Linked DNA regions of Homo sapiens: all the other regions are linked to region 2. The links come from fine-mapping of genetic effects on gene expression. A gene starts in region 2. Each other region holds a variant in brackets. All regions are shown on one strand. Distances are from middle to middle. Region 1 overlaps MAST4 (microtubule associated serine/threonine kinase family member 4). Region 2 holds the start of MAST4-AS1 (MAST4 antisense RNA 1). Region 3 overlaps MAST4 (microtubule associated serine/threonine kinase family member 4).

Region 1 (10,708 bases), 21 kb after region 2:
TCAGTGTAATCCTAACTACAGTCAGTGTAATCCACATAATAAATAGCTTTTTGTTTCCCTAAGTTTTTTAATGGATGGGGCTCATTAGTTTATATAATCATCCCTAAAACTAGGACAGCACTAGCACTGTCACTCTGCAGTAAAATATTAATCCTACCAAACCAAATATTTGACATGATCTGTACGGCTTGAAATATTTTCCTTAAACCATTAACTTCTCAGTGGTATAGGGAGACAAAATAAAGAGAAAGAAAAATACCACATTTTTTCAGTACAGTTTTGTTACATAAGGAACATTTTACAAAGGAAACTGGATTTTCTTTAGGAGTATTGAAATTAAACACCATACTTTAGGGACCATTTCTCAGTCTGTTACTAGAGAAGTTTCTCTGAACCTGCAGAGCACCTAAAAAAAAAAGTAGAAAAAAATTACAAAAAAAAGGGTATTATAATTATTTTTGAGCAGTTTATGTCCTAAGCCATTTCAGGCATCCAGGCCTCCAGCTCATCTGAAAACTTCTGATTTTCAAAACACATTGCACATGACTCATCAGCATACTCTATATGCTAGATACTGATGAAGGAGGGTTACACCAAATCAACTGTAAAAGTGTGACTCCTTTTTCGTCTGTAAAGTCACTTAAGAAAGCAAAAACATGTCACCTTCAAGACACAGAAGAGCTTCTGAAAACAAGGCTCTCGTTTCTTTCACATAAACTTTACACATACTTATATACATATTTGACTTAAAAAAAAACCTCAGCTAAAATATGCCCATTAGAAAAACATTTATTCTTTCAGGCTATTAAATATACAAGCATTGAGGAAGATTTGCTCTAGCACATGCAACACCATGAAGAATCTAGTAAGTTTATATAATCTTACACTTCTTTAAGATTTTGAGAGATAAGAGCATACACATGTACATGCATATTTGTTTGAAACAAAATATAGACACGTTTAGCTGGACGTGGTGGCTTATGCCTATAATCCTGGCTTCTCAGGTGGCTGAGGTGGGAGCATTGCTTGAGGCCAGGAGGTCAAGACCAGTCTGACCAACATAGCGAGACCCTATCTCTAAAAAATAAAAAATTAGCCAGGCATGGTGATGTGCACCTGTAGTCCCAGCTACTCAGGAAGTGGGAGGATCAACTGAACCCAGGAGCTTGAGGCTGCAGTGAGCTATGATCGTGTTACTGCCCTCCAGCCTGAGCAACAGAGTGAGACCCTGTCTCAAAATAAATAAATAAATAAATATATATATATATATATAAATTCATACATATATATTTTTAATATATATATGTCTATATGGAAAGACAGAGAGAAAGTACTGGAAAGGAAACAATATGAGCTTTGGATATGTTTTATTTAATGTGGTGGCAATTCATCCAAGGGGTGATGTTCTCCCAGCATTTGGACACACAGGGCTAAAAATAAACAGAGAAAAAGACAGAGTGATATGATGCACATTTACAGATTTTCTTTCTAAAATAAAGAGCAAGTATTTCTCTGTGTAACAACATATGGATCCATACTTTCTATAAAAGTCAAGTCCCGCTTGGGCTCAGTTTCCCTTTCCAGACTCTGCACTTAACACTTCTTCCTTGCCCTTCCCAGCTCTGTGCTCCCCAGGGACCTGCCCTGCACTCTGCTCCCACTGTGACCCTGCCCTCCCCAGCAAGGGATGCCTCGCTACCTCCTCCTCTCTTCCTCATAGACAACTTTTCAAACTTCTACATCCTGGTGAAATGGAATTAGACAGAATTAATCCTCTTTCCTCTGGTCTGTTATTATATTACAGCTGTTTTTGTCTGTTTTCCTTGAGGGAAGGTCATGGGTCACCCATCTTGGTATCCCAGCCTCTACCGTGGGATCATTATTGGCAATCAATATATGTTTACAGGATGAATGAGTAGTTCTACACACTGTGCTGTCTACATGTAGATGACTTGAGTCTTTTTTAGAAGTAGGTGAGATGCAAGGAGTCAATGAAGCTCAGGTTTCCCTTGTTGCTATACCACCTGCTGGAGTTTTCACTACTATGCTAAATACATTGCCATTTTATTTTTTCTAATTCAACGACATAGGAAGCAGCCCCACATATGAAAGTTATTTTTACCTTCTCTGCCTTTGTTTTGATTCCCTTTCCCACCCCATACACCCTTGTTCCACTTACCCCAAAACCTAATCTTTCCTCTAAGCCCAACCTCGTATCTTACCTACTTCAAAGTCTCTTTCAGCTATACAGACACACACAAGCAGGCTACAGGTTAAAGGAAAATAAATAGGTAGGTTATAAAATCATTCCAGGCCTACTGCTCAGATAAGGCAGGCACTAAAAATAAACCTGATTTGGTAACAAAGAAGGGAAAGGCATCAAAAAGGAAAGTTCTTCCGTACCTTTCAAAGATCCAGAACTCCAATTTGCCCAGCAGGAAAATCTAGGGCCCCTCAAGCTGCTGGCATGTTAAGGGCCTTTGTCTTTGATTGAACATTTCTTCCAGCACCTGCATTCTACCTTCTACTCACCTACCTCTCCTGAACCCTCCCCAAAATGGTCCTTTAATTCCATGGTCTGTGCACAGATGGGCAGAGACCTTTCAGCATCTGACATTTCATATCCTCCTAATGAAGGATCAGCATCACTCCACACAGAAGACCACTCTCCTGTGTGAAACTCCTCCTTCATTCCGCTTCTTTGAAATCACCTGGCTGGTCTTCCTCCTAATCTCTGGTCATGCCTCCTCCAGATCCTCAGCATGATATTTCAATCTGCAGTGTCTCAGGAATCTGTCCTGAAGCTACTTCTCACTAGTTGACTTCATCCAGTCCCCTGGCCCTGTACACCACCTACTTTCCTAAAAGTCCCAAATTTACTTCTCCAGACCTAACTTCTCCTTAGAATTCCAGATTCCACATGAGTATCATATAAAGATCTCAAATTCAACACAAACAAAACAAAACTTTTAATTTTCTTCCACGATCCTGCTCCCCGCCCTCTCAAGTCTTCCCCACCTGTGTAAACAGAACCGTGATCTTCTGTTCATCCAGTGGACAATCTAGGACCCATCCTTGTTTTTGCTGTTTCCCTCAATGCCCCCCGCCCCGCCCCCATCCTCCAACTCATCCCTTGGCAAGCCCTACACATTTCCCCCTCAGAACACAGCCTGAATCCATCTACTTCTCTCCAATTTCACTATTTACCCCTGTAGTCCAAGGCAACATTCTCTCTCATTCTAAGTTACTTTTTGAGCTCTATCCACCCTCTACACAGAAACCAGGGAAACTTTAAAGAGGCAAATCAGATTATGTTATTACCCTACTTTACAATATCAAGTGTTTTCCACGTATACCTATGTAACAAACCTGCACATTCTGCACTTATATCCCGGAACTTAAAACAAAAAAATAAAAATATCAAGTGCTTTCTTTCCATCCTGCTTAAAGGAAAGCCCAATCTCCTTACTCCAACTTATGAAGTCTTGTGGACCTGGCCCTGCCTCTCTGCCCACTCATCCACATGTGTGCCCTGTGCCCACACCACTCTTCTTTAGCTTGCTTCTGCCCTGGGTGGCCTCTTTACTTGGGAGGCTTTTGCTTTGGTTTTCTCATGGCTGTTGCCTTCTGGTCATTTAGTTCCAGCTCGCATGCCACTCCTTCAGGAAGAAAGAAGCCATGGACTCCCCTGTTTTACTTCTCTGCAGCTCACTTGTCACTCCTCCAGTGTTTTTCTGGTTTATGTTACATCCTCTTCTCCAAATCCCTGCACCCCACTGGGATATAAGCTCCATGAGAGCAGAGACTTTCTCTATCCTGTCTGTCACCGTATCCCTAAAGCCTAGAACACAGCCTGGCTGGTGGTAGCTTCTCAAAAACACTTGCTGAAATGAAGATTGTGTGAATGAATACAGTGCCTCCTCTGTGTTACCACTAAGCACTGTCAGCCAAAAGATTTTGAGAGGCATGGTCCAGGACTTCTTTCTCTGTCCTCCTCTGTTTGAATTGAACAATATTTCACTCTGTAAACCCCACTATCTGAAGTCATAGGTTACATCTTTGTATTCCTTCAGGAGCTCCACCTCTACTAAGGCTTTGTGTAAAGTCATAACACTGGCATAAAACCTCTGTTGACAAATCACAACATTACACAATGAAATAACCAAATCACAACATGACAAAAGCAAATACCTCTAATCCCTCCCCATTCCCCTCCCCCTCAGTTTTGTAGAAACTATTTACTAATCATTTCCCCTGTGCCTGGTACTTAATGATCCTCAAACATGGAAAGATTAATGTGAACTTCCCCAATATACAGATGAGGAAACTGGCACTTAGAGATACTACACAAATAGCCCCAAGTCCCTTAAAGCAAGTGTCATGCAAATGGTAGGTTAAAATATCTCAGAGGGAGATCCAGGCATACTAAAATAACCTTCTCTTCACCATTAAAGCAGAATCCCAAATTCTAGCTTCTATCAAAATCATGAAAATGATCAGCTCCAAAGTCACACATACAGATTCTGGAACAAAGCTAAGGGATGGCCGTCTGTCATCATGGAAAAGCAGCTCCTCAGAAATAAGTGACATTAACTATTGTCTCCAAAACTAAATCTATGCATTGGTTTGACCAGGGATCTCACCCACAAATGCTGCCTAGAGCAGAAACTGACTACTTCTGACATTTCATATCCTCCTAATGAAGAAGGTACATATAGGTATGATGAGCACAAGAAAAGCTCAGTGGCAGCAAAGGGTTGGAACTTGAAACCATGTATCTACCTCCACGAAATGAAGTCAGCTACATAGTCAAGGCAATATTCACCACTTAGCTTCCTAAATAAAAATCCTATATAAATGCTATGTGCTCAATAAAAGCTATAACTCTCCTGATGAATGGGGCAGCATTCCTTGATATCTATTTTAGTGTAATTCAGATTGATATGAAAACTAAATCCAGCTAGACAATGAACCCTGTATAGTTGTGTAAATTAATCACCAGTAAAAGGGCACCACGCTCCAACAGTGGTTGCAGGCTGGCAACCTCCTTCGAACAAATTGCAAATAGGCACTTTAATGAGGGAGAAAATATGAGGTAACATAACTGTAGTCAAATCAGTTCCTACAGGAGGGAAAGCACATTAACTGATGTGCTGATATCCGCCGCCAGAATATCAGCTAGGGAGAACAAAAGGCTGTCAAAGCAAGATGCTGTTACTAAGCCAAGGCAGCCCAGGGTATGGGCTTAAGCTGCAATATGACATTCTCAAGGGGAACATGAGTTTTGTTTCTAATGTCAGCTC[T/C]TTAAGTGCTTTTTATTGATGTCATTGTTTTAGGATGTGCTAGTTATCCCTGACTACCAACAGGAGATTCTAATAGATTGTCACGGTGGCTTCAGAAATACACACTTTAATAAATAAATATTCTTTTATGACATAATTTTCCTAGTTAGGCAGGTCATGGTGTCCAGACACATTCAGATCACTCGATATTACATCTCTAAGTGACCCTCCATGCCAAGTGAGACACTTTACCAAATTGTTATTAGAATCGACTTTAGTCTCCCTAAGTAAGGAAAAATGGAGAAGTTAAAAGAAAGCACACACTCTCAAACACAGGATGCTCATGTTTCAGAATGGGATAAGGCCGATGATGTAAAAGGAAAAAAGAACATGTCACCTACAGAAAGCTGAGATGTGCAAGGCCATTATACAGGAGCAGACTGGATCCTGGCCTTGCCACTTCCTAGTTTGTAAGACTCCGGACAAGTTAATCTCTCTCTGTAAATCCTGATTTCCTCATCTTTAAAATAAGAATAACATCATCAAACAACTCTACCTATTCTACCTATTCCCACAAAATTGAGGCCTCAAATCACTTTATGGCTGCCTCAAACACAATAAAAAATCATGGGATAAAGTTCAAATAAACAAAGAGTAAGAATGATCTCATTGGGTTTTTATGAGAATCAAGAGTTTGTGTGTGAGAAGTGTCCTCAAATTAGAGAGCACTTAACAATTACTGAGCCAACTGATCTTGGCAGAGACACTGAGTTTTTAATGCTCCTCCAGAAGCAATACTACTTTACAGCCCTCAGAATCAAAGTGGGTCAGAGCCTCTCTTGAAAAATGAAATCTCAAATTTAAATGGGGCAAAAATAAGCTTGGCCCTAGTCTGCATTCTCTGTCAAAAACCCAAATCTGTTTATAGGGCTATGAAATTCATGTTCTCCAAGAACAACAAACTAAGGATGTTTTTAGAAGCATCTGAAGCTTCTGGCCAATTTCTGACAAAATAAATTCAATGCAACTCTGCCAGTTTCTGAACTCAATTTCCATTGGCAAATCCCTGGCGCAGGTGCTGCCATCCCCACCCCCATCCTTCCATCACCGCAGTAAATACTGCTGATTGATTATACAGTTTTCAGCCACTAAGTCCCAGACGGAGCCTCAGAATCTTTCTCAACACAAAGTTCTGAGTGGATGTGGTCAGAAAGTATCTATTATTAGCCATTCCTAAAGTAGAGAAACGAACAATTGACTGCATAGTCCAATGTCTTTCCAAAACAAATTTCTATTTTGAGCGGATAATTTCCAATAAATAAGAACATTATTAAATAGCTGTATTCATCAAATCAATATATTCAGCTATTTCAGATAACATTTTGCAAAAAAAATCCCACTTGGAGGCTTAAAAATAAGTGGTGCCACTCAAAGTCACATGTTTTACCATATTATGAGGTAAATGGAAAAGGCACAGGGTTACAAACTTATGACTTTAAAATTTCTATGCCCAAACGATCTCTCCCATACTCCACTGTGCAGAGCTTTGGAGTCTCAGTCCAGCACTATTTTTTCTTTAGCATAGTCTTTATTCTTTCATGAGAAAAAAAAATGTCCTGATCAGCTAACATCCCTGCAGTTCACTTCCTCGGGTAAGAGGGGGTGACTTGTTACTGCCAGTCCTCAGGCTCTTTGCCAACGTCAGAAGCAGAAGGCTCTCTTCTTGACTGCCCCAGAATACCTACACTTTCTAGGCCCAGCCAGAGCATTTATTCTAAAACTGAAGATTCCTTGGAAATGATCGAAATTAGGTGGAGAAGAGTGATAACTGAAAGGCAAAGAGAGACACGCTACGTAAACATTATCTCTGAGTTCTGGCCCTAGATGAATTAGATCATTGCTGGAAAGCAATATTCTTGCAACAAACACAGAACTTACAACCTTCTTTGTTGAACCATACTAAAAAGGACTCGTTTAAAATATATTTTCACCCTTTCTGATGAATTGAGGTCATCAGCCATTTCACGAAAGATTTCTTGTAAAATTCCACGTGAGGACAAGGCATAGAGCTCCAAAACCACACATGGTTTCTTTAGTCAGTGGGATCAATCCTGTTTCCCTTTTAGCTTTGACTAGCAGAAACTTAGCTAAATTCAGACCTCAATTAGATTAGTTATCTTACTCAAGTGCCACATAAAAGTATCTTAGAGTTTGAGGTCTTGCTTATCCTTTTTAACTAATTTCATATATGTTTCTATTGTAAACTACCTTAAATCCTTTTCAAAGGAGGTGGGTATAAGTGATGAACACACAGCCAAGTGTGAGGCGTTGTCATGCATCTAGCATTGTGGCTGCAGCTGGCTCTACTCACCAGGCCATCCTTGACCCCTGGGGGACTTATCTCTGGCCAGATATGTACATCTCAGCCACCGCAAGAGACAGTAAATTTCATCTACTCCCCCAGCCCAGCTATTCAGAACTGATAAAACATTTCTTTATATCCAAAAAGAATTTTGCATCCAGCAAGTAGCTTGAAGTTAGGAAGGCATATATTCTTCCTCAGATAACTTCTACACACAAAAATCTTGCAATAATAGTGGTGCCTGAGGATTTTCCCTCGACAAATTAAAGATGACATCATTCAGAATTGTTCTGCAAAATTTGGTCAGATCCATAACAACTGTCTGTACTCGTATTAGGCAGACAGTTCTGAGTTAAATGTATTCTATACACATGTGAATTACACACTTAATGACTGTGAGCCACGGGGCTAGAAGAGCTCCAATAACCATTGTTTCTCACAAAGTTCAATGACATTTTCTAAAAATATATGTAGAGCACCTGCAAGGTGGACAAATTATTGCCTGAAATTTCTGGAGTGTGTCTGGAGTGTGAAAAGGACCTCAAAAGCAAGCTCATTTGGTCTCTTGACAGCCAGTTTGATGTATTAACGACATTCAATTCCAGTAGCCCAATCCTAGTAGTAGAAAGAAAAAACAAATGTGTCCCTGCCCCACAACCAAGGATCATTCTCTAGCTTCTGGGGCATCTCTAGCGGATCTAGAGGGTGAACCCAAATTGGACCTTAAGGCCATTCAGGTGTTTCTCCAAAGCAGAACACCAGGCTTACTCCCTAGTTAACTGAACTCAAGAAATCTCAGTTGCAGGTTGCAGCTGAACATGCTTCCCCAAACTAATGACTATTTTTTTTTCTTAGTCCAGACCTAAACCACAGGAACAAGGAGCAAGGTGGATTTTGCCGAGCATCTGCCCCCGCTACTCACAATTTTAAAGAGGACTCAGTGTCTCTGTTGACACCTCCTACACCTTCATCTACATTATATATGAAGTTCCGAACATTCTCCCTAGGGTGCATCTCCAACAGCAGGCTGGACCTTTCTACTTGGCTGCTGTGCCATCATTTTTAGGTTCGATATTACTAACCATAGCTAAAAGTGAAACTGTTATCTTCAAAATGGATTGTTATCCCTGCTTCTATCTGAGATATAGCAATTCTCCCAATCTGCGTAAAAAGCCTCCCATCCTTCAGCAGGTCCTGTCAACTCTTCTTTCACAATGCCTTCCATTCTTCCTTCCCCTTCTCAAGCCTGCCTTTCTTCAGCTCTTCATCATTCCTTTTCTGCACTTTCCTTCTACTCTATTCAGACCAAGTTTCTCCTATGCAGAAATCTTACTAAGCTACCATGTTATTCTATTTTGCTAGTTAAAAAACCTCCAGACATGTCCTACACCGAAAAAAGAAAGCTCAAGACTAGCAAGTGAAACACTATAGTCTATTTCCAATGTTCCTCTTCCACAAAAATCCCTTCTGTCCTCATGCTGACTTTATATTAGCTCTCAGGCAAGCTGGCTTACCTAGCATCCTTGAACATACATGTCTACATCATCCCTTTCACTCCTACCCTTCTGCTCATCCCCAGTGATCTTCTCTCCTCCTTTCCATGTACTTAGCCCCGAATCAAACTTCATAGTCCAGTTTAAATCCTGATCCTAAATTCTCATGGCCTCTGGTTGTACCACTCATGTAGCATTCATAGCTCTGTACATTTTTTCAGGTGTCTAACTTAACTAAATTGTTACTTAAAACTAAAAGAAGAACATCTTCTCTTCTTGGTATCCTTCCCACAGCATTAGTACAGCAACCTAACAAAAGTGGGTTATATTTGCTGATATGCCGTAGCTTACAAAATGTTTTAAGAAGACTTCCTAAAGACTGATTTTAAAACACAGAATAACTAGAATAGGAGCATTTTAGGTCTTTACTTCCTTTAGTAAACCCTACTCTCATTACTACAACTCACCCAACCTTGGATGTACTTAAAAAACTGTAAAATTCAGAAAGTGAAGGGGAGAATAGAGGAGTGCATTTTACTTTACTAGAAAGATTTCTGATTTTAGCTTTTAGTTCTGTGTTAAAGTGACCACAATGATTTCAAAGTATATCTTCTTTCATGTTCATTCACAGTCAAATTCATAAACTTGTGCATATAACAAAACAATGCCTCAAAATAAGCAATCAATATAAAAATTTATGTGTGTGATTTTACAGCAACAGTACCTTAGGCAGCTGATTTTACACTGAAAAAGAAAATCTACTTTGAAGCTTCAAAGAAGCAGAGAATAAAAATAAAAATGCCTTTGGAGACAGGATGATCACTGGGTTCTAGGTTCTGAGTTCGAATCCTGTGTAGTTGCCAGTATTTTCTAAGATGCCACTGGAATGCACAAACCTATACACAGAACTGACAAAACAATAAACTACATTTTATGCCAAAGCCTTTCGATTCTGTTTTCACAAAAAACTAACAGAATCAAATGACATTTCATTGATTTCTCTAACTGTAGTCATATATAATCTTTTTTCCTTTTGGAAAGAAACAACAGCTAATGTAAACCCAAGAGCAGAACTTGATGGGGACCATCAAGGTGAGGAACAGTGACTCATGCCCAAGAAGCTATTATGAGGGATTTATGGGTCTAAACACTGACAATAAACTGAATAAACAAGATCATGCATAGGGGCAGGAGGTTTGTTTTCTTTTCCCCCCAAATGTGTACAACTGCTGTTGTGATCAATAAAAAAATTAAATGCTCTGAGTTTGCAGTCATTTTCTGCTTTTTCTACTTTCTCAATCAAGAGATCATGTGGGGTGTTCTAAAAATGTCTGATAGCCGGGCGTGGTGGCTCACTCCTGTAATCCCAGCACTTTGGGAGACTGAGGCGGGTGGATCACCTGAGGTTGGGAGTTAAGAGACCTGCCTGACAAACATGGAGAAACACCGTCTCTACTAAAAACACAAAATTAGCCAGGCGTGGTGGCGCATGCCTGTAATCCCAGCTACTAGGGAGGCTGGGGCAGAAGAATCGCTTGAACCCAGGAGGCGGAAGTTACGGTGAGCCGAGA
Region 2 (10,708 bases):
GAGACCAAATTCTCTCTTACTCACTGAGCTTATATGTGAGCTCCTATGGCTTATATGTACCTTGTAAATACTTCTTGATTGTCCTGGTTTGCAATGATTCATTTACTTGTCTTCATTGAAAGCATGCCTACAGCTTTCAAAATTGGGTCACAGTGCCCAGGTACACAATAGGTGCTTAATAAATGTGGAGTTAATTGGGATTTGGGTAAAAGGGGTGAGTACAGGTTTACTAACACCTGGAATACCAGGGCAAGAGGGAAGAGGATTCTCTATAGTTCTCATAGTCATGACATATATTCATGAGCAAAACAAAGGAAAAACTCATCAAACACTACAGATGTATCTGAAGGGAAGATGCCGAATGCATAAAAAATTCAATACATCCTGACAACTACAGGATTTAGTTTAAGATCCCTGAAGGTACCTGCTGTTCATAGCAATTACTGAGTAATGTGAATTCTGCAAAAAACAACTACCAAAATAAAAACCCCAAAAACTTCTTTTTTGGTTCTCAGAAAAAGACATTTGGAAACTTGCTCAAAGTGATGAACTGAGTCACAAACTACCCATCGGCGTGGAAAATGGTTTTATTGATTTAGGCATCATCAAGGTTGAAAGATTATCATTAAGCAAAATGAAAACATGACAGATTTCTAAACATTAAGGTTAAAACACAAGCATCTTCTGGATTCTCAAGACTGCACTTCAGCAAAACTAAAGGCCCAACTCAAAACTTAGCAGCAACATTTAGAAATCAATTGTAGCCCTTTCCTTAAGGTGTGACAGAGAGCAGATATAATTAAAAGAGAAGCTTGATTCGTTTCCCCCAAAAGTTTTTCATCCAATGGGCAAAGAAAAGATGCTATAAACATAAGCAGTGACATGAATGCAGGCCAACTAATTTCCATTCTGAGTTGTGAGAGGATCCTCAATGAATGGAATAGCCACAGACCTATGAAACTGAAAATCTCTGAAACATGCAATCATTACTTCAGTCTAAAGCAACAAGTTTTCGTATAAAGTCTCTTCATTTATGCCTAGGTTTCTGTCCCTCAAAGCAGCAGGTGAATGGCTGTACTGAGACTACCTTGAGGAAATGAGGGGAAGGGAGAGGAGGACAAAGCCAGTTATATAGAAGGAACTATTTCCAATGGAACATGTAAGCTATACAGCAACAGAGTAGACAAAAGCCAGTGTGCATCCCAACAATCTCATGTCTGCCATGGTCAAGACAAAAGAGAATGAAGGGCATAATATACTGTCCTTGGGACGTAGCACAAGGGACAGAGTCTTTCAGTTCATCAGTACTGTGTCATCTTTGAGAATCTAGGCCTGAGAGTATGTCTGTAGGCTTCTTTCCTCAGGAACCCCAAGAGTTACAGGCACAAGTAGGGCTGTAGGTTTTAAGAAAAACCTTCAATATTTTTCTCTGAGAGTACAAACTAACAAACCAGCATCACATTGAACTATAAGGCAAACGTAATGTAGCAAACCAAAAGTTTCCATGATGACAATTTCTACCATAATAAAGGTTTAAGGTAAGAGTCTGAAACCATTCAAGCTCTCGTTTAAGTGTGACAAACATTCTATCCTTATGAGTTCTAAGATGCTCATTCATAGGCTCAAAGCTGAATTTTACTTTGATAGATGCAAGAAGCTGATATTAAAGAAAAAGCTAAGATAAAGTCCTCCAGATTACAATGTTAATCAGAACAAACAGATGGGATAAAATATTCAAAATGAACAATCTGTCACACAAGTCAGCAAGTGTGCAGGAGAGGAACTAAGTTTGGGAATGAGAGATATCTCAAGGGTTAAGGCATATCTGACTGATGATGACAGCAAGGTGTCCTCACCTGGACACTGGGGACACCCTTATCGAGGATGGCAAAACAGAACAACTTGCGAACAGAAAGGTCCTTTGGAAAGGAGAAAAACTACTCAGCCCGGTAAGGTACAGCATTAGACTTGGAAAAGGAAACAGGATTTAGAACAGTTAAGGGGCATCTCAAAAGTAGAAGTCACAATGTAAGCACATGTTTCATGTCCTTAGGGAAGGACATGGAGCCAGAATTGATCACTGTATAATAACAGGATGCAATAGCCACATACATTGCCCTGGAGATGAGGATACCTAGCCTTCTGAATCTACATAATAAATATAAAGCAATGCTAGCCCTTTGAGACAGACAATGACTCGATGGATGTAGAGATGATCTTTGGGATGTTTATTTCCAAACTGCAAAACCTGAAAATCTCCAGCAACAAACAGGCTGTCATAACCTTTACTCTTAAAAGGGGGAGAAGAAAATCCCCTTCCCTCTCTATTTTGCCAAATTGAAGATACGGTTTCATGACTTGGGGTGGAAACAGCCCACCCAATGCTCTCCCATTTTACTGGGAAGAATTCAGGTTTCCTTAGAATCTAGGCTCTCTGTCAGTGTGAGCTGTCTGAATTGGAGTGTTCAGGCTGGACAGGTACTGCCCTAAAGCCAGGCTCAGAGCAGCCTGAGAATCCTCCTGCATCTGACTCTCTCCAATAATACTATCAACAGGTAGGTAGGAAGAAGAAAGGCTCCAACTGCTCTACGGGTTCAGACACACACATACGATGCCAGAACAGACTTCTCTCCCTAAGAACTGGTTCCAGGTAAGAGTAGAGGCTGTACCGCAGCCAGGACTACACAACTCAGAAATATTTAAGGGATTCTGTCCAGCTGAAATGGTAAGAAATCATACGAATTATCACCATGTTGAGCAGTGGCCTAGTTCATGTGTAGCATGTATCTCTCTTCAACTTTATTAGTTGTCTTGGAGGTTTGGTGCATGGTTGACACAACTTGATGAGCAATACTACAAAATGAGCAATACTACAAGAGAGGGTCTCTGACCATATATGGCAGAACGAGAAAAACATAGTCACATTACTTAAAAGGTACAACTTCAGAATCCAACATAGTTTAGTGGTATCAACACTTCAAACTGCATCAAAAAGCAAATATGACTTTGAAACCTGCCAGATGTCTCTCTCATACACACAGGTGCACATGTGATTTGTGTGTGCACCCATGTATATAAACAGTGTATGTGAGTATTCCAGGATGTTTCTGAAATGTAAGAAACCATGAAAAACTTCAAAAGGAAAAACTAAGTTTTCTAAAGTATCACATATCCACATTTATACTACAAAAAGTTACAGGTATAACCAAAAAGAACGAACCATTTTCTTGGGTTCTTTGAACACTGAAGCATAGAGATTGTGAAGCTCCAAATCTGAGAGCCTGCATCCTGTTTATCTGACTGCAAAGTTGCTCTCATGCATGTTCACATGTACATGCAAGGCAAGTTTTGAAGGAAAACAAAGAATCAGTATTAACACAACTCAAAAGGTGTGCCCCTCTAAAAGTACAACAATCTTACTTTTCTGTGCTGGACACAAATGTGGTGAGAAATGCCTCCTTCAAAGTCATAGTCTCTCAACACAAGTGTCAGCAAACTCTTGGAACTGCCTGTCACTTGTGGCATGAGCTTCATCTTGACATTAAAATTCTTTTTCTTTCCCCATCTTTTCTATCAAATATACGTTACAAAATGAAAAGGACACTCCTGTATTAGTAATAAATGCCAGCAAACCATTGAAAAATCAAAATGACAAAGTTATGTAGATCTGCCTCTCCACAGATAGTATGAAATAGCTAACCTGGGCTATCCTTGCATCGTACATCTGCATCTTATAAAGGTCAAATATTTAATAGAGAGGAACATCTGAAGGGCTCAACGAAAAGTACCAGAAGCCTCAATGACTGGGTGAATGAAATGGATAAACATGATCAGGTCAAAGGGACAGACTTAGACAAAGTATCTCCTCCTCTTTCCCTTTTTCTCCCCCACCTCTCACAAGGAAATGTCTTATTATCCACATTTCAAAAGGAGAAAACCTATGAGAAGCACATTTATCAGGGTTACCCAGGAAACCACAAGGACGAAGAAATACCTGAAACAGTACCCCCTCCCCTAGCGGGGCATAAACTTTTCAAAGTGTCACCCAATACACAAAACCCCAGCTCCTGAGGGGCTCAGGCAGCTCCGCCTGTGGGCCCCTGGGAAGTGAAAGCATTCCCTCTCCAGGCAGAGATCCCCGCGTTTTTACCTTTGTGTTCGCCGAAGCCTGTTCCCACTCCTCAAATGAGGCAAAGTAAAGTTTGAGAGCACAGTCCAAAAATTGGGGTCAGACATATCCATTTCTTTCTCTCTTCAATTCACTGTGGGTTCAAGGCCATATGACTAAAATGGGGAGAGGTAAAAAAAAGGAAGAAAGACAAGGCCAAAAATAAAAAAAAAATCCCAATTATCTACTCACTCCCTCCAGAGAAAATGTGATGGGAACTGTGATCTCAAGAACAACTTGGAGCATGTCTGAGAAGTACCCGTCCCGTCCTAGCCTTTAATTAACACACAGCCTCCTCTCAAAGGTCCGGGAAACTGATTTCCTCTCGGGTCTGCCCTCTCCTAGTCAGGCTCGGCCAGCTATAAACAGTAATTACATGAGTTGAGCCGTGCGTTCTGCTCAAAGCGCTGTCTGTGGGATTCAGTCGGAGGTACTTTGTCATCTGTTTGGCAGATACCACTCGCCGCTTCTGCGAGGGGCGGGGGAGACGACTATTTTGAGGCTTTGGTTCCGGAGGCTGTTGCTTATCAGCAAAACCATTCACATCCGAACATGCCCAGTGCCGAGTTTCCTTTTGGTATCTACATACAAGGAAAAGAATTTGAATAGAAAAAGCTGCTCTTGCCCTCCCCTCCTGAAAAAAGCGGAAACTTAAAAGCACTTTTAAAAAATGGGCCTATTGGAGGACTTGAACCTGACACCTTTGTGGACCCTTCCAGGGTCCGGCTGGGAGGAGGCGGCAGGGCCTTGTCCCTGGACAGCTTGGTGGCCGCGCCCCCAGCTTTCCTGCATCCCCCACCCCCCACCAGCCCCGGCCGCGCCTGAGGAGCGGGGGCTCACGGGAAAGGGAGCAGGCGGCCGCGGCGCGACCCCAGCCGGTGCCGGGACAGCCCCGCAGCCTGGGCCGCCGCTCCCCCTCCCCGGAGCCCGGAATGGATCCGTCCCGGAAATAAATAAATAAACCCGCGGCTGCTCCGGGTGTGTGCTGCGCGCACCTGAGGCCGACCTGTGATTCACCGCGGGAGGGATGGCAGTGACAACGCTCCGGGGAAGTCCACAGTGACTCCTCCGCCAGGACGCCGCTGGTTGTATAGGAAAAGCACGCGGACGGGAAGCCACACTCACCGAAAACCTCAGTAAACTAAATTTATGAGTTTACATCTGTTCCATCAATGACCACGGTGCACACCTGTTTGGCTTCATGGCCGGCAACTACAGATCTAGGTAATGGTGAGCCCCGATGTGGAAAGACACTACCTGGCATTTATGTGGCAAATGCTACAAGTATTGCCCCTTCAAGTACGTTAGACCTTGAAAGGGCAGAATGAAGGGGGCTGAATGTTCTTGTTATTCATTTTGAAGAAAGGCATGGTATTTAAATATCTCCCCCTATCCATGAATGTTTGTATAAAGTACATAAAGAAAAAATATAATTTAAATTAGCTGCCTTAAGTCTGGTGTAATATGGCAAGAAATACTAAATCAAAAAAGTATATATTCAGCAAAAAATACATCTAAAAATGGCTTAGTCCATGCAGTAAATACCAGGAACAAACTCGCTTACAAAAATGGGAGGATAAAGAGAAGGAAGAGGGGGTGTAAGCTGACAAGGTAGGCGGGGTAAACAAAAAGAAGCCTGCTGTGGGATCTTCTTTATCTAATTCTTGTGGCCCACATTAATATTTTCACACCAAGGACTCCAAGAGTTTTGGATGATGTTTCATGTCCAAGGCTTTCGTATGCGTTATCTCCTCACATTCTTACAGAGCCTCCACAGATCCTTGCAACCCACAGAGGTAGACAAAGAAGGCATTATTTTCTCAATTTTACATTTGGGACTTTATCCCAAACATTCAGGGACACTAAATGACAAAACACACTTCAATAGATATTAATGAGCTTGGTCCAGCATTTTTGCCCCATGCTCTTCTTTTAAAAAATGTTTCTAAGTATTGCAAAAGATGTTTTGAAGGCTGACACAAAAGAGTGTCCCTGTGCTCCGGAGCAGTTTCTAGACCTCAGCACTGTTGACATAGGCTGGATAATTCTTTGTCTGAGGAGCTTTCTTGAGCATTGGAGGATGTTTAGCAACATTGCTGACCTCGACCTACTAGATGCCAGTGCTGACAATTAAAAATGTCTGAGGACATTGCCAAATGTCCCTTGGGAGGTAAAATCACCCCTGGTTGGGAACCACTGCTCCAGATAAAGGCTTCTCTGAGAGGGGTGATACAGAGCACTGGTTTAGAGCAAAAATTTTGGGTCTGAATTCTGGATACAACACTTACTATGACCTTAAATCTCTTCTCATTTTCCCCAGCTGCAATATGGGGTCCATAATAGGACCAACCTGTAAGAGGCTGATATACATAAATGAAGAGGAGATGGCATACATAAGCCCTTTCACGCAATGTCTACACACACACTGCGCATAAATGTAGGCAGTATACAGAAGCTAAGAGAATACTATGCTGACAGACATAAGACTGGAGCAGAGGACACCCCACAATGTGCTTCTTTCTACTCTCTAGAGTCTTCAACCAGGCTGCTGATCACACTGTGTATAATTGACTGTTTACTGCTGTCTTTCCAATTAGTCTGAGTTCCTCAAGGCTAAAGTCACATTTTACTGATCTTCATATTTTCAGAACCTGACAGCTCCTCAGTTTATATAGGCATTTAATATTAGTAAATCCTTTTTGAATGGATACTTCAGAAGCCCAAGTATCTCTTATTTCTCTTAAGATGCACTGAAACTATTAGTACTAGTAGATCTGTATTCTCAAAGAATACTGAATTTTTGAGAATCCCATGAAGACGGTAAATTCTGAAGACTTTCTCTTAGTGACTTATTTGTATCTATATCATGTAGCTGGAAAGATATCAGTGCTAACATTCCTCAGGTCTTTACATGGCTCTAAGAAATGTCACAATCAAACTCAAGGGGAATTCCCTTTGAGTCCCATGTCCCCTCCTCAAAGGCAAGCCCAGAGAATAACTTTTTGTGCTCACTTGTAGGTATCCAAGATCAAGAGGGACAATTACATATTATAAGCCGCACAGAGAAGAGTAATCAAGGTGGACATGAACTTGTGCTATATAAGTTATGGGTTGAAGAACTCTGTGGAAAGTAGAGAAGAAAAAATTTAGGGAACAAGCAGTAGTTGAATACAGCTATGTGAAACTATGAGAACTATGTGAAAGAGTGTTTGGATCCAAAGATGAAAGAGCTGACACAAGAGTGGATTTTCTGAGAGCTGTTTGAGCAGAGAAAACTTGAAGGAGATACAGTGAGTAGAACACAACCTGTAGGTGGTTTGAAGACCTGAGGACTCCAATACCTCCCAACTCTCATATTCTCTATAGTTTTTCTAGAAAAGCCCATGTATTGGGGCATAACCTATAAAGATGATAGCAACTAAAATGGATAAATCAATGACATAAAATGTTTATTTCTTCTCTTGATTAAATGACAGATACCCCAATCTGCAGGCATCATATGTTATGACTGCCTCCACTCTCTGCATTTTGAGAAAGCCTCTACAGAAATTCTCAAAGGAATGGGTAAAGACATGAGTATTTTTAACTACATATACTTTAAATTTATTTTTTTTTTTTGCATTTAAAAGGCTTGAGAGGATTTGGGTTGTATCCAAACTGAAAAAATAAAAATAGGTTAAGTACATGAGGAACCAGAATGAATTAATATAGTGAGCGAAAGTGGATTGTACATTCCCACACTCATGAAGATAAGAGTACAGATGACACTGAAGTGTGAGTTGTCTTCTAACCTGTTTGACTTGATTTGGTTACATATGATTCAGAAGGCAGAGCAGTCGGTAAACACAAGAATTAAAATTGTCAAAACTACTGACATTTTCCTACAAAATAATTATATGGGCAGAAACTATAGTTGCGACTGCAGTAAAACTCAACTGCAGAACAAAGAGGGAACTGAGATTACTGGAAATTCTTAAGACTATAGCTGGTCTAGGTCAATATAGAGATATTCAGCAGGATTTTCTATTGTGTAACAACTAAGCCTATACAACAATGGACAAGCTTTGTGGTTCAGAACTTTCATTCATTTAATCAGGATGACATTGTTAGCCATTGGTTTTGTAAGGTAAATGAAACTAAAAAACAAGCTTGTCATCCTACTGAAATGCAAGCTTAGGAAGAAATAAGTATTTAAGAAAGGGTCAAATCCTTCACTATTACCTCCCCTTCTACATACAAAAAATGCCAGGTCCTTTTTACTGACTTGAATTCTGTCTACTGCCCACCTGTTGACACAAGCCACCCCCCCCCTTTTTTTTTAGACAGAGTTTCACTCTTGTCGCCCAGGCTGGAGTGCAGTGGCGCGATCTTGGCTTACTGCAACCTCTGCCTCTCAGGTTCAAGCGATTCTCCTGCCTCAGCCTCCCAAGTAGCTGGGATTACAGGCAGTCGCCACCACACCCAACTAATTTTTTTGTATTTTTAGTAGGGACGGGGTTTCACCATGTTAGGCAGGCTGGTCTCGAACTCCTGACTGCAGGTAATCCACCCGCCTCAGCCTCCCAAAGTGCTTACAGGCGTGAGCCACCACAGCCGGCAACACATGCCCTTTAAGAAGGGGTTTTCTCCAGTCCACGTAGAACAATGTTAAAAGATAATATGCCTGGAGTCTTGTCTTGAACTTAGATTCTATGAAAAGACTTAGTTTTCTAGTGTGGATGTGAAGTCTGCAAAGCTGTCAGCTCCCTGTGCAGGACACTCGGGCCATGAGGCCATGCCCAATAAGACACTAAGTTGAGATTTCCTAAGCACTCTACCTGATCCTGGCCTATTCTAAGGATTTTGCCCTAAACTAACTTTGACATCTTCCCATCCCCATTTTCAGGGCACCTAGAAGTGACTAGTTCCCTAGGGCTGTCCACACCTTCAAGTCCACTTTGGTCACCTTCTAAATGTGGTCTTGAGAGTTTGAGGCTAGAACTGTGAACAGCAAACTGGCTGTCCTGAATGAGCAATCCTTGTAATCATTTTGTACATCCCAAGAAATAAAGTTTAATACTGGGACAGAAATGGGAAGAAAGTTACATCAATGAGGAACAGGTTGAAGAAAGCGTTTCTAATATTATTAAACAAATTTGCACTCACAATGCTAAAATATGGAGAAAGATAAAAAGATAGACAACAATTAACTTGTAGGGATAGGCCTGAATGCTGAAAACTAAGACAGATAATAGGCAAGGTTGTATCATCCTGGAAAATACCAAAAAATATTTTAAAATAATGCCACAAGGTAAGAGAGGTTCAGATTTTTAAAGTGAATGAGTAAAATGAAAGAAACATTATCCTGGAAGCAAAAAAGGAAAAGGAAAAAAAAAACCCAAAACAAAGGAAACAAAATAAGAATTCTATTTCCTGATGGGTTGAGCAAAGAACTACACAATCTCCGAAGGTAGTGTAAAGGATACAGTCTGAAGCAAGTAAAGGACATGCTAAAGACTGGCCAGAATGGGAAGAGAATGCAAGGTCTTTCTCAGGCATTCTCTGGATCCCAGGAGAATCAGAGACACGGAAAAGATTAGCAGATAACCTATAAGCTAACAAAATATAAGAGAAGACAGTGCATAGATATGGGAAATGAAGCACTTATCTCCCAAGGCAGTGAGTGACTCCTTGATATGTATGATTGATAATTAGAGTAGAATACATATATGGCACACAGCCCATAGGACTGGAGAAGGTGCAGAATCATGTCTTGCAAGCACACTCCAGCACTCTACCTTCTGACTTTCAAGCAGGGGAAGTTCCTGGGAGAAGCCCCATAGCTTAGTCCCAACAGAGTTCCACCCCGTGGGAGAACAGCTGGACACACTGCCAGAAAACACATGGCATCCTTACAGGGATGAAGGGGTCATGCAAAAGAAGGAGACTACTGGGCAAGATCCAGAGATGAGTGTATCTCTCCATTCTAAAACAGCTGTCTGGAAGATCCATCAATAAACCACGTGGAGCACTGGCCTCCACCCAAGCCAGTAATCCAATTATGAAGTAGACAGCAACACTTGGAGATCAATGCATCACCCGGCAAACAGAAAACCTAACTCCTATCTTGTTTTAAGACCAACCTTGTTGTCACTTTAGGCAGCCTTCATGGGAGCCCCCCATCCCCAATGAATTAGATATCCCTCTACTGGGCTGTGCTCCTGAGAGCTCCTGCATGAAAGGGTTCTTCCACTGTATCAAAATCCAAATCATTTTGTGCACATTATCAGTCCCTATTAGAGTAAGAGCTCCTTGAGGGCAGGGGCTTTATCCCCTCATCTTTAAACCATCACTACCACCATTGGGATGAATATTAAGCAAAGGGAGAAAGGGAACAATAGAGAAAGGATTGGGGGTGAAGGGGTGGGCAGGGGAAAGAAGAGATTGAGGATGGATTTGCTACAGGTTAGAAAGATGTGTGATAACAAAGTTAGGGCTACCTGCCTAATATTTTAAAGACTGACCCTATATGTGTTTTAAAAACCTTTTCCTGTCTATTTC
Region 3 (10,708 bases), 96 kb before region 2:
AATTAGGATGCTAATATTTTCCTTCAGTTTTCTGCAATTATTTACATATTCATGTCTAGAGAAAACTATCTATAATTATGTTTGCAAAGGCATAATTTGTGCCCTGTGAGATACAAAAATACAATATATACAAATACATAGACTAAATAGGTTTCATTTTAGGCTGTGGCTGGTCAATTTCAGCCAGAAGAGCAATATTATACATGCATTCCATTCCCCCATACAGACTCTCTTCCTGTCCTGGGTGTTATCAAGTGCTAGGCATGCAAGTGTTAGGCCTAGACAGGTCCTGTGTTTATCTGTCATTTTGGAAATTGGATATTTTGTTAGAAGAAGAACTGACACTAATGAAAATATAGGTTGCCATTCACTACTCAACACCACATGCAGGTTAATTAATAGAACACACAGCCTGGAAGAAGCCAGCAATTTTCCATTTAGCTTTTTCAGATATAGAACTAGATAGCATCATCAAATAACACACATACGCTCAGGCAATTTATAACTTTATGGTTAAAGGGGGAAAAAATCACTGCTTCAAAATCCTTCACAATCCACTTATCCTAGAGTCATAGATTGTTGGGTCCTAAGATTCCTGTAAAGGTTATTACATTAATTTTCTATTACTATAAATAAAGACCAGAATCAATTTATAGCAAGTAGCAATCAGGTGAGTTTTTTTTTTTTTTTCCTTCTTTTTTGCTTCTCTGGAATGTGAACTCCATTTCATGGTTATAACTTGTAAGCAAAAAAAAATTTTTTTCAGGGAAAAGCAAAATAAATCAGAAAACTATATGGTACATGGTTCTTACCTCCTGTAGCAACTTATCTAATTTGTGCTGTAATTCAAGGAAGTATCGTGAGGTGATGAGGCCCTGGTGGGATTTATCCAAGCAATCTCGAGCCAGTTCAATAATCTGGTGGTGAGTGAAACTAAGCACTCCATCTGCTAAGGGTAGAACGTTGTCAGGAGAGTAGCTGGTGATAATTTCCTTTAGACGTTCTTCCATCTGAGCTGTAGCCTATATAGAGAAGACACACATACACAGATGTAATACGAGGAAACACACATGTAAACAATTCAATCATCACATTTTTACAGCATTTTCAGAGACCTCCACAAGTTGTTAAATGGGATTCTAGAAATCAAATTTAAAAGAAGCCTCACTTCTGATAAAATAATGGTACATACATGTCATCAGACATTTGTCTGAACCCATTGATTATACAACACAAAGGCTGAATGAACCCTAATGCATGTTGGGGGCATTCATGCATAGCCTTCCCAGGTACATGGGAAATCTCTGTACCATCTGCTCAATTTTTTTGTGAAGCTAAAACTGTTCTTAAAAAGTTGCTATAAAAAAGCAGCAGCCTCAGCATGTGAAATACAGATCTGAGGGTACATAAGTGAAATCAACATTTCAGAATGATAATCTCCCTTTTCTGTGTTCTATCAAATGTAAAATGGTCTCTGTAAGCTTCTTCAAGTAACTCAGATTGTATCTGTGAATTGTTACGCTTTCATTTAAGATCTTGGGCTCTTTCAGATGGACTGTCCAAAATATCAAACATTTCTTTATGTTTTTGTACTTAAACATCAGGTTGTTGCTAGAGTTCCACAACCTAAGCTAAAAATGTATCTTTCGGGCTAGGTTTTAATGTGCCAGGAGCACACATCTTATATCATCTTCTTTTGCCACAAAGCTACATCCTATGTAAAAGTCCCAGGGGACTCCCTTGGTAAAATAAATCTAAAATTTCCTTTCCAACTTTCATTTCATTCTCTCTGGTCACCCACTGCCTAATCCATATTCCTTGCTTACATTAATTATATATGCAGGGAGACTCCCTCTCCTTCCTCCCTCCTCCTCCCCTCTAATATCCTAACCTGCATTAACTAGGTTAACAGTCAGTATCTGTTTCCCTGGTGAGCAAGTGACATGTGATAAATAGCTAAAACAGCTTTAATCAATGACATCAATGTTGGGTTAGTTGCAAATAATAAGTACTCTACTCTTGATTTATGAAACCAAAGATTTTCATTTGTTCTCCTGTTTAGGGCAACACAGGCTGTGGGGGTGGATCGGAAAAACGTGGAGAGGGGCCTTCTCCCAAATGTGCAGAAATGCTTTGGTGGGAAAGACGTGGAAACAAGGTGAGCTAATGGGACCATCTGAGAGCAGGTCCTTGCAGCCAGGGGCTTGGCAGCAGCCCTTCACAATTGCTCTCTCAATTCATGTTCCTTTACCAGTCTAACTGGAGAACACGACAACTGTGCCTTCTCTTCTAAATTAATAGGTTTAGAAATACAATGTCTAAAGAGATAGGAAATCACAGAAAAGTAATGTGGAAAAACAACAACAACAGCAACTCTCATGACACACCAATCTACAGGCTTCTAACGGAGAAAAACAGTCTCTACTTAACAATGTGGCAGCAGGCCCAGAATATGGGTACAGAGTGCACAGTCTAGAGGCCTTTCAAAGTAGACCCTCCCTACGGCACCTCACCAGGCCCACCCCGTGTGTGGTGCACAAGTGGCAGGTTCACTTTAGAGCCAGCTCAGCACACGTAGAGCACAGCTAGTTCTCAGCAGTTGTTAGCTTAACATTTTTTTTTAGTTATTTTCTCTTTCTAAGAAGACTATGGAGCTGTTTTATGCAAATCATTACTAGATTGGACCCTTACTTCCTATAACAAAACAACCTTACAGACTCTAAACCTATGGTGCCTGTTCGTTTAGATGCTAGGCATCTTCAATTCAATTCATTACCTTTGGGAACCTTTCTTTGTAGACATGGTTCATCATAATTATTTCATGGTCACAGCAGGCGGGAGAACGTCCAGGGCTGCAAGCAAAGCAAATTACCCTTTTAAACTTGCCACAGCATGAAATGAAAATAAGCTTTTTATTTATAAACAGTCAGTTGCATCAAAAGTACTATGCAACCTTTGTAAGAAAAGTATATCAGATAATAAACTACAAAATCAGTCATTAGTACACATGCACACATACATTCCCATAAACACAAAGATACTCTGAATAGGACTGAAAAAGAAAGCTCAAGAAGTGGAATGCCACAAAATCATCATAGTTACAATACAATACTAGTTCAGAAAATGTTTGTAAATTGAAATTATATTCTGCATGTAGTATGAGCTTGCATAAGATCTGGAAAACAATTAACAAACTGCAAAATAAAATAAAATAGGATAGCTACAAAGAGCAACATCTAGGACACATTTAACAGTATAATTTCACACTTTTATCATACACCTGCGGTCTGCCACACATCACTGAAGAAGTCTGAAAGTCTTCCATGGCACAGGTGTCATAATTGAGATCCATTTTCTAGCCTAGCAAATATTTATCTAGGATGCTGAGGTAGGCATTATGTATTATATGAAACAGAGGCATACAACTATTGTGCATTCTTCTTTACTCTTTCAATAGTAGGTTTATCTTCCTTCCTAGTGATATATAGTTGTGCAACTTCGGTGTGTTTATATTCCTAAGTGGATACAGCTTATACTACGCACCTTAGGAATTCCTTTAATAAAACAAAAAATGGCACCAATGTAGTAAAACATGGTGCCTGTAGATGAAATAGTAAAACCAGCTGTTAATTCCATATCTCAGAATAATCTAACATGTCTCACAATTATCCAGTGTGGCTATATTTAGTATTAGTTTATGAGACTAAGTAAAGACAAAAAGTACAAAGGGAAATTGCTTCTCATTAAACTTTGATATTCAACTGACCGCCTAATAAATAAGCTATTTTTTAATATAATAAAACCTTAATATATCAAAGTGCACTAATTCTATAGCATAAAGATCTCATACTGCAGCGGATAAGTGATGCCCTATCCTGATCCCTCCTTCAAAGAAGGACCTGTTGCCCGGCTTCTGGGAGTGCTATCCACAGAAACCTTCAGCTGCCAGTCCCTGCAGGGATGGCATCAGCTGCAAGGAGTCATCTCGCCTGAGGCTGAGTCTTTCCCAGGGTGCCACATCCAGTGAGGGACCCAGTGACTGAGGTAGGGATATAAAAGAAGTCGCATTTGGCCCAGGGGAGCAACTCTGCTGAGTCCTGTCGTTCCCGAGCTCTCCATGGAGTCGGCTAAGGCTGCTGGACTTCTCCCTCTGTCCAATCCTGCCTCTCCCTTCCCTCCCACAGGTGCTAATTTCGAAAGCACTCCCTAAGAAACATGCTGAACAAGAAGCTCTGTTTTAGATTCTGCTTCCTGAGGAAACAAACTCACAGTAAAACTGGCCCTACCCAGTGTTAGGTGGACTACATTTGGCATCCACAAACTTCAGGTGACACAAACTCCTAAAAATGTGTTCACAGTCTTAGAGAAAAGTAAGACTTACGATGGGAAGAAAGAACAAAGATATTTTGTAATATGGAATCTGGAATTTTAAAAAATCCTCCTATTCTTGTTGTCCTTCTATTTCCACGAAGCTGTTGCCTCTTAACATAACAACATTAACTGCTTTTGCACTGCCTTGAAATTTCCAGTGGCTAGATGTTTTCATAGGTAGTCCCAAGACCATCGTGATTACTACTGCTGCAATCAGCAAATTGTGAGAACTGAAAAGGAAACTTATAAGATGCCTTTCAATGGTAATTAACAATATTATGTGTACATGGAAACATCACACTATATTTGTAATAGTTTGCAAGTCAGTTAACACACATATGACCTAAAGGACCGAAGTGTTCACTCAAAATGTTTGAAAATAGAGAATCCAACTAAGTAATGGTTTTCAGCCAGGCCCACACACCTCAGACTTCGGGAACGGGGGCGCATCGGCGTGTTCCTGCATCTGTTCTCAGTGGCGATGCTTTCGGTGGTACAGAAATGTTTTGATAAGAAGTGTAACTCGTCTGGTGTTGGTTGGTATGGTAACTGATGCAACTTCTCCTGGGAGGAACAGGATGACTGAAAAAAACCAAAGTGAGGTCACATAACTACCTCAGAAAGAAACTCTTCAAATGAACAGGAGAGATCGATGAGTTAAACTTGGACAATACCACCATTTTTATTGTTTCTTTTTCATGTTAAAGTTATAAGAACGACTGCCTAAATGTATAACTTGATGTTCTCTCTCAGAGTTCAAAATGCTTTCCATATTTTGCCTCATTTGTTTATAATTTCCCAAAAGATAGTTTTCTCTCTGGAGAAAACCCAGGCTCTGAAAATGGATCGGAACCAGTCAAAGCCAAAGCAAGAAAGCGACCACTGGAGTGACATTAGGGAGCACTGTATCACAGATTAGTTCTCAACTGAACATGGCACCCCCGAGTTTACTGCTGCTCAAAATCAAATGCGGACTTTTAGGTAAATAACATGAAATAAATGGTATGATATGAGATCGTCAATAAGGCAATGAAACCTCTCTTTACAATGCATCAGTGTGTGGCATGAGTAAAACGGGAGGGATTAAAGAAGATCCTTTTCCCAATAAAGCCACTGTCTTAAAATCTGGAATTGAATTTTCTTTCTTCCTTTTCTTTGGAGGGAGTAGGGGGCTGAGATTATAACTTAAAATAAAAAAAAAAAACCTTCAAGTGGTGGTGAATTTTTTGTTCCATGCCTGTAGATTTGCTTTTTGAAAATCGTCATTCAACATTTGGAACAAGGAAAGACAGGA[A/C]AGATGAACAGCTAAATAACCCTGCTTTTAATCAATCTGAAACATTTAACTAAAAAGCAAAGAAACTAATTGTTTTCATTTTCAGTCAGAGGTAAACTCCTTAAGTAATTCTAATAAAAGAGACTCAGAAATTTTTTAGTAAATGGAAACATGGTTAGAATAAGCGTATTTTGAAAGATACTACTTATTTTAAAATGTCAGTTCTAGTAAGCATTTTTTTTAAAAATCATTATATTAAGAGTATCCTTCATAAATACTGAAACATTGCAATGCAGCAAAACTAGAAATTAATGCCTAAAGCTTAAAAATTATTCCTATAACTTGAAATTATAAAACATCTTACTAAGTACATATTGAGACAAAGAGGAATTTTTATAATGTAATGAGATTATTTTACAAGCAATAAAAAAATGAGAGCACTACTAGACTTATGAGATAAATCAAAGCTGTATTCAGTAAGTATAGTCATGGCCTTAAACACTTCTCACTAAGAAAAAAGAAATAAAACACATGAACTAAATCAAGTCAAGAAATCAAGAAAAAAATAAAATAAAATCAATGCAAGCAGGAGATAAGCAGTGGTGATAAGAGGAAAGATAAGGAAATTAGCAAATAGACAAACAGAATTAAGAATCTATAGATATGTTTCAAAGGTAAATCAATGTCCACAATCCTGTATCCAAGATTTCAAAACCCACAAACTCAGAAGTTTGTTCCTAAGTTTACAGTAATCTCTTTTGGTGGCAAAGCACCAACTGAACTGATGGGAAGCTGTTTAAAATATTTATTTAATCTACTTAGTATGAATGTTGATTCAAACTGCTGCAGAAATATTAATATATTTGATTATGAGCAGCTGGCCCCACTGTTGCTGGTCTGTTATGTACAGAACAGGGATGTTGCCTTTCTAAAAGTGAAAATTCCAAAACACACCAGGCTCAAGATACCATGCAACTGTACTTGCACAGGAACAGTATCTATTGACTTCAGAGAAGGGTCCAAAGAATGAAGATTTACACAAAAAATTATGCTGCTAGTTCTTCAGGCAATTAGAGTTCCAAAACCATGTTCTGAGTCATGATATCATTCAGTAAGCATTTAGTCTCTCCAGGTAACCATTTTGCAAAGGATAGTATTCATATGCACATACAAGTTTCTACTTTTTATTAAATCATATCATTTGATAGACATACTTCATATTTTTATGAGTATTTATATTCTTATTTCTGTACTTTCAGCAGAAAATAATTTATCTGGTAAGAAACATACGGGAGAATGTCTTCCTACTGATACAATTCTGTAGTACTTATTTCAAAATTAAGAATTATCTGAATATCACATTGGAAAAGGTCCAAAAATTAATTTTAACTGCAAACTGTGATGTTTCAAGAAACCACAATACTGAATATTCTCTGGGATGACTGATTTACTTCATCTGGCTAAATCTTTCAAATTTCCGAATATAGCATTTTTAACATTTAGCAATTTTGCAGTTTCCATAATAGCCAAAGGATACAGATATTATAATGTTTACATTTCAGTCTGGCACTCAGACAACAGCTGAAATTATCTGTAAAGTTTAAACTATATTTTCAAAATGCTTGCAATTTTATTCGTATATATTCTACATTTTGATTTTTTAAACAGTTAAAGTAAATTTCTGATTGGCTAAATGACTAACAGTTAACCCAGGGAAATAAGAATCTAAGAGTGATTCAGCTTAGCTTTAGAAAAGAAAAACCTGCAACTACTAAGAAGTTTTACACAGTTTTTGCCCTAATATTTAAAGAATAGAAACACAAAGAAACTGAGAAAAATAGAGAAGTAGCTTTCCTAGTTTTCGCTCATCACTTTTATCAACAATCAATAAGGAGAAAAAAATAATTGAACTTTCACACTACAGCACCTGCAGTCCGTCATCTAAATAGTTCCTTCTCTCTATTGGCAAAAGGAGTAATTCTGGAAGCTAAAATTTCATTTTGGAGGAAAAAATAGGAATATTGAGCCTAATAATTATATGATACTAACGTCTTCAATAAAATAAACACTTCAGAGAAGAGCTGTTAGAAACACAAAGTATGTGTGTATGACTAAAAATGGTCTTGGGGGTGTCTTCCGTAGGCACATACAGAATTTAGAGACAGCAACGATTTCATTTTGACTGACGACCAGGTCAGCTTTATTAATTACAAGGTTTATCTGAAAAAATGCCATGTAAATTCCTTTAAAAGAGCCAAGATGCTGGGTTCTAAAACTGCTTACCGTATTCTGACTGAGAAAACAAGGGAACAGTAAACAGTCACTCAGTTAAACAGTCTCTCTGTGCCTCAGATTTCTGGCCCATACAATGAAAAAAACAACAGCAATTACATGATAGGGGATGTTGCTAAGATTAAATGAGCCAATGCATTTTAAGAATTTAGACAAGCACCTGGCATATAACAAGTATTTATAAAACAAAATTATTTTAAACATTATTTGTACCAAACAGGGTCTGATTTTATGTAGCTCACCTTTTTTTATGGATTCACTTTTAAAAATGATGAATGACTTACTAAAGATGGAAAGAATACAAATCCTGAACTCACCCCTATTTTTCTTGCAAAAGAGAGACTTCTATGTCCAAGTTATAATAAAACTTGACTGAAGGCAATGCAAGGTGACAGAGTTGAAATAAAAAAAACAATTTGGAGTTAAAAGACACGTCTAAAATATTGGCCAATAACCACTGATAGTGACTGCCATAAGAATCAAGGATGACTTCACTATTATTTACTGACAATTTTATTCATTCATGCTATTCAGGATTTTTAAGCATCTTTTACTGATGCTGATATGCCTCTGAAACTACTTAAGGTTGTTAGGATGTTTCTAAAAATATGATCTAAATGGACAATAGACTCATATATCACAACAAAATGGAATAATGGATAGAAAAATAAATTACCTCTGCTCAATGAAATACCATAAAGAGATGGTAAAAATAACCCAACAGCTTTTAACAATTTGGTTTTAAAGGTACTCCAGAAAATCTACGTTATATTATTATACTTGGAATTCTGGAAATACATCAGTATAAGGCAGAGGTGATACCAGTTAGAATTTATCTATTTAACTGTAGTTTCTTGTCATTCAAGTGTTATTAAGTGGCTAAACCTATGTGCTTAATGGAGTGCTGGGGGCTATCAAAAATACAATAGATGGATATCCCTAAACAATAAACCAGAGATTTTGACAAAATGAGGCTCTAGGTCCACATTCCTTGCTGGTGCAAAGAGAGCCAGATCACTCCATATATTGAACACCTGCAATCTACTAGGCCCTTCTAAATGACCACCTTGTTTCTATAGCCCTGCAGATACAGTTATCCCACATGATCACTAACATAAACTAAAAAAACATACATCTAACCTACTGAGTTGTTTCCAGTAATTGCTAGGTCTCTTGTTGAAATGTTATAGTTTGGGGCAAGAGTATCCATTTTCCTCTATCCTATTTTCATAATTCCACTATGTCTTTATTTATCTTAACCTTCTTCTAAGTTGTTTTAATTCTTTCTTAAAAGAAAGTTCTTACCTAGAAGGCACAGACAAATTAAGACTTGCCTTTTTTTTTTCTTTGAAGGAGAAAGAAAACAAAACAAAACAAACCTCTATCTAAGCCACATAGGAAGAAAGACCCAGTCTATCGAAGTTCAATGGCATTTTTAGCATAATGTCACTGGCATGGAACCAAAGCAATAAAACTAGATTGTGTTTTTCCCCCCGAACTACACCAAATGTTATTAAAATGAAAGCTTCCAGTTTCCTCCAAACTTGTGATCCTGGAACTTACTCAATTTATGCACTACAGTTTAAAAGCTTGCAGCGAAAGTATGTCCTTTTTATTTTTGTCAGGCCATCATTTGATGTGTCACTTATTCAGAGTGGCAGACATGCAGAATTTATCTTCTCCTCCCTACCAGGAAACACCCAGAGAAAACACTGCCTGTGTAATAGCTCTGTTGTTGTGAGGAAGAGAAAAAAAAAAAAAAAGTCAGGCACTTACAGAGACCGTAGAGCTGGGTGTGTTTGTCCCATAGCCAGAGGAAGGGAGAGAAGCCAACGACCAGCGGCGTCCATCAGTCCTATTGAGAAAGTGAGTTTAGCTTAGGCCAACACTGGCGTACTGTCACATGGGAACCCCAGGGAAACTAAGTATTTTTAGTCAAACAAATGACACAAACATAGTCTGTGAGGATGTGGAAATGTTCAGCAAGGGTCAGGGTAAACAAACATTATACAGTAGGTTGACTTTTATTTAAACTGAATCAATACAACCAAACAAGTAGAAAGGGAATGGGTTGATCCATATTATTGATGTCTCACTAATATACTTTGACAAAATGAATACCAGGGATAATTACAATGGTCAGACTCAGCAGATTCAAATGAATAAGAACAGAAAGGCAGGAGGAAAACACTCTCATCTGGAAGCTGATAACCAGAGCAAATGATCTTTGGAAGGGGCTAACTTCCAGCATGGCACAAGGGCCTGTGGGGACTTTCTTTGCATCCGAAACACTTTCTGCTTATTATTTTCAAGGAACAGTTATACTCATCATGCTTAGGGAAGAAGGGATCATTAGGCTCATGGCTGGCTCAGGCCTGAAGTGTCAAATAACTTTAGCATTAAGTAAGTAACTGACCTTATGCTTAGAATCTCTTAAGAGTTACTGCCTTCGGACATGACCTGGCTTGTTACAGCAAAGCCTCCTGCAGAGTCTTTGAGCATGCAGCCCAGCTCTGGCCAGTCAACAGTGGGGGCAGAGTGAAACCTTCTCCACCAGTGATAGAACTTAATGCAAAGAGTAAAGTTGTTTGCCTCAGCCTTAGAGGCAAAGCTGGCAGGAGCCATGAAAAGGGTGGTTTTATCTTCAAGTGATGATAGAATGGGTGGTTTCTCAGTTGGAGTTTGGCTGTGGATAAGGGTCATTACAAGGGTCTCAGATGAGTGAATGCAGCAGTAGAAACAATACTGCTGCAAAGGGAAGGGGACAACAGA

What was found. PIP is the estimated chance that this variant, and not a neighbour inherited with it, causes the effect.
Region 1: its variant is the best candidate, but not a certain one, in a credible set for the expression of MAST4-AS1 in skeletal muscle (GTEx, PIP 0.59).
Region 3: its variant is the best candidate, but not a certain one, in a credible set for the expression of MAST4-AS1 in whole blood (INTERVAL, PIP 0.88).

The regions. Positions count from the first base shown.
Region 1 is chr5:66,977,166-66,987,873 of GRCh38, reverse strand. All of the region lies in intron 4 of MAST4 (microtubule associated serine/threonine kinase family member 4), which reads right to left. Among named protein-coding and RNA genes, the nearest start is that of MAST4-AS1, 22 kb to the left of the region's middle. The variant T/C (reference allele first, on the strand shown) is at 5,304.
Region 2 is chr5:66,998,528-67,009,235 of GRCh38, reverse strand. It overlaps MAST4-AS1 (MAST4 antisense RNA 1), which reads left to right and starts at 5,082. Exons shown (of 2, transcript NR_111908.1): 1 at 5,082-5,392; 2 at 7,187-7,618. All of the region lies in intron 4 of MAST4 (microtubule associated serine/threonine kinase family member 4), which reads right to left. RefSeq lists a silencer at 4,865-5,204.
Region 3 is chr5:67,094,680-67,105,387 of GRCh38, reverse strand. It overlaps MAST4 (microtubule associated serine/threonine kinase family member 4), which reads right to left. Exons shown (of 29, transcript NM_001164664.2): 7 at 9,713-9,791; 8 at 4,796-4,953; 9 at 2,777-2,852; 10 at 813-1,022. Among named protein-coding and RNA genes, the nearest start is that of MAST4-AS1, 96 kb to the right of the region's middle. The variant A/C (reference allele first, on the strand shown) is at 5,666.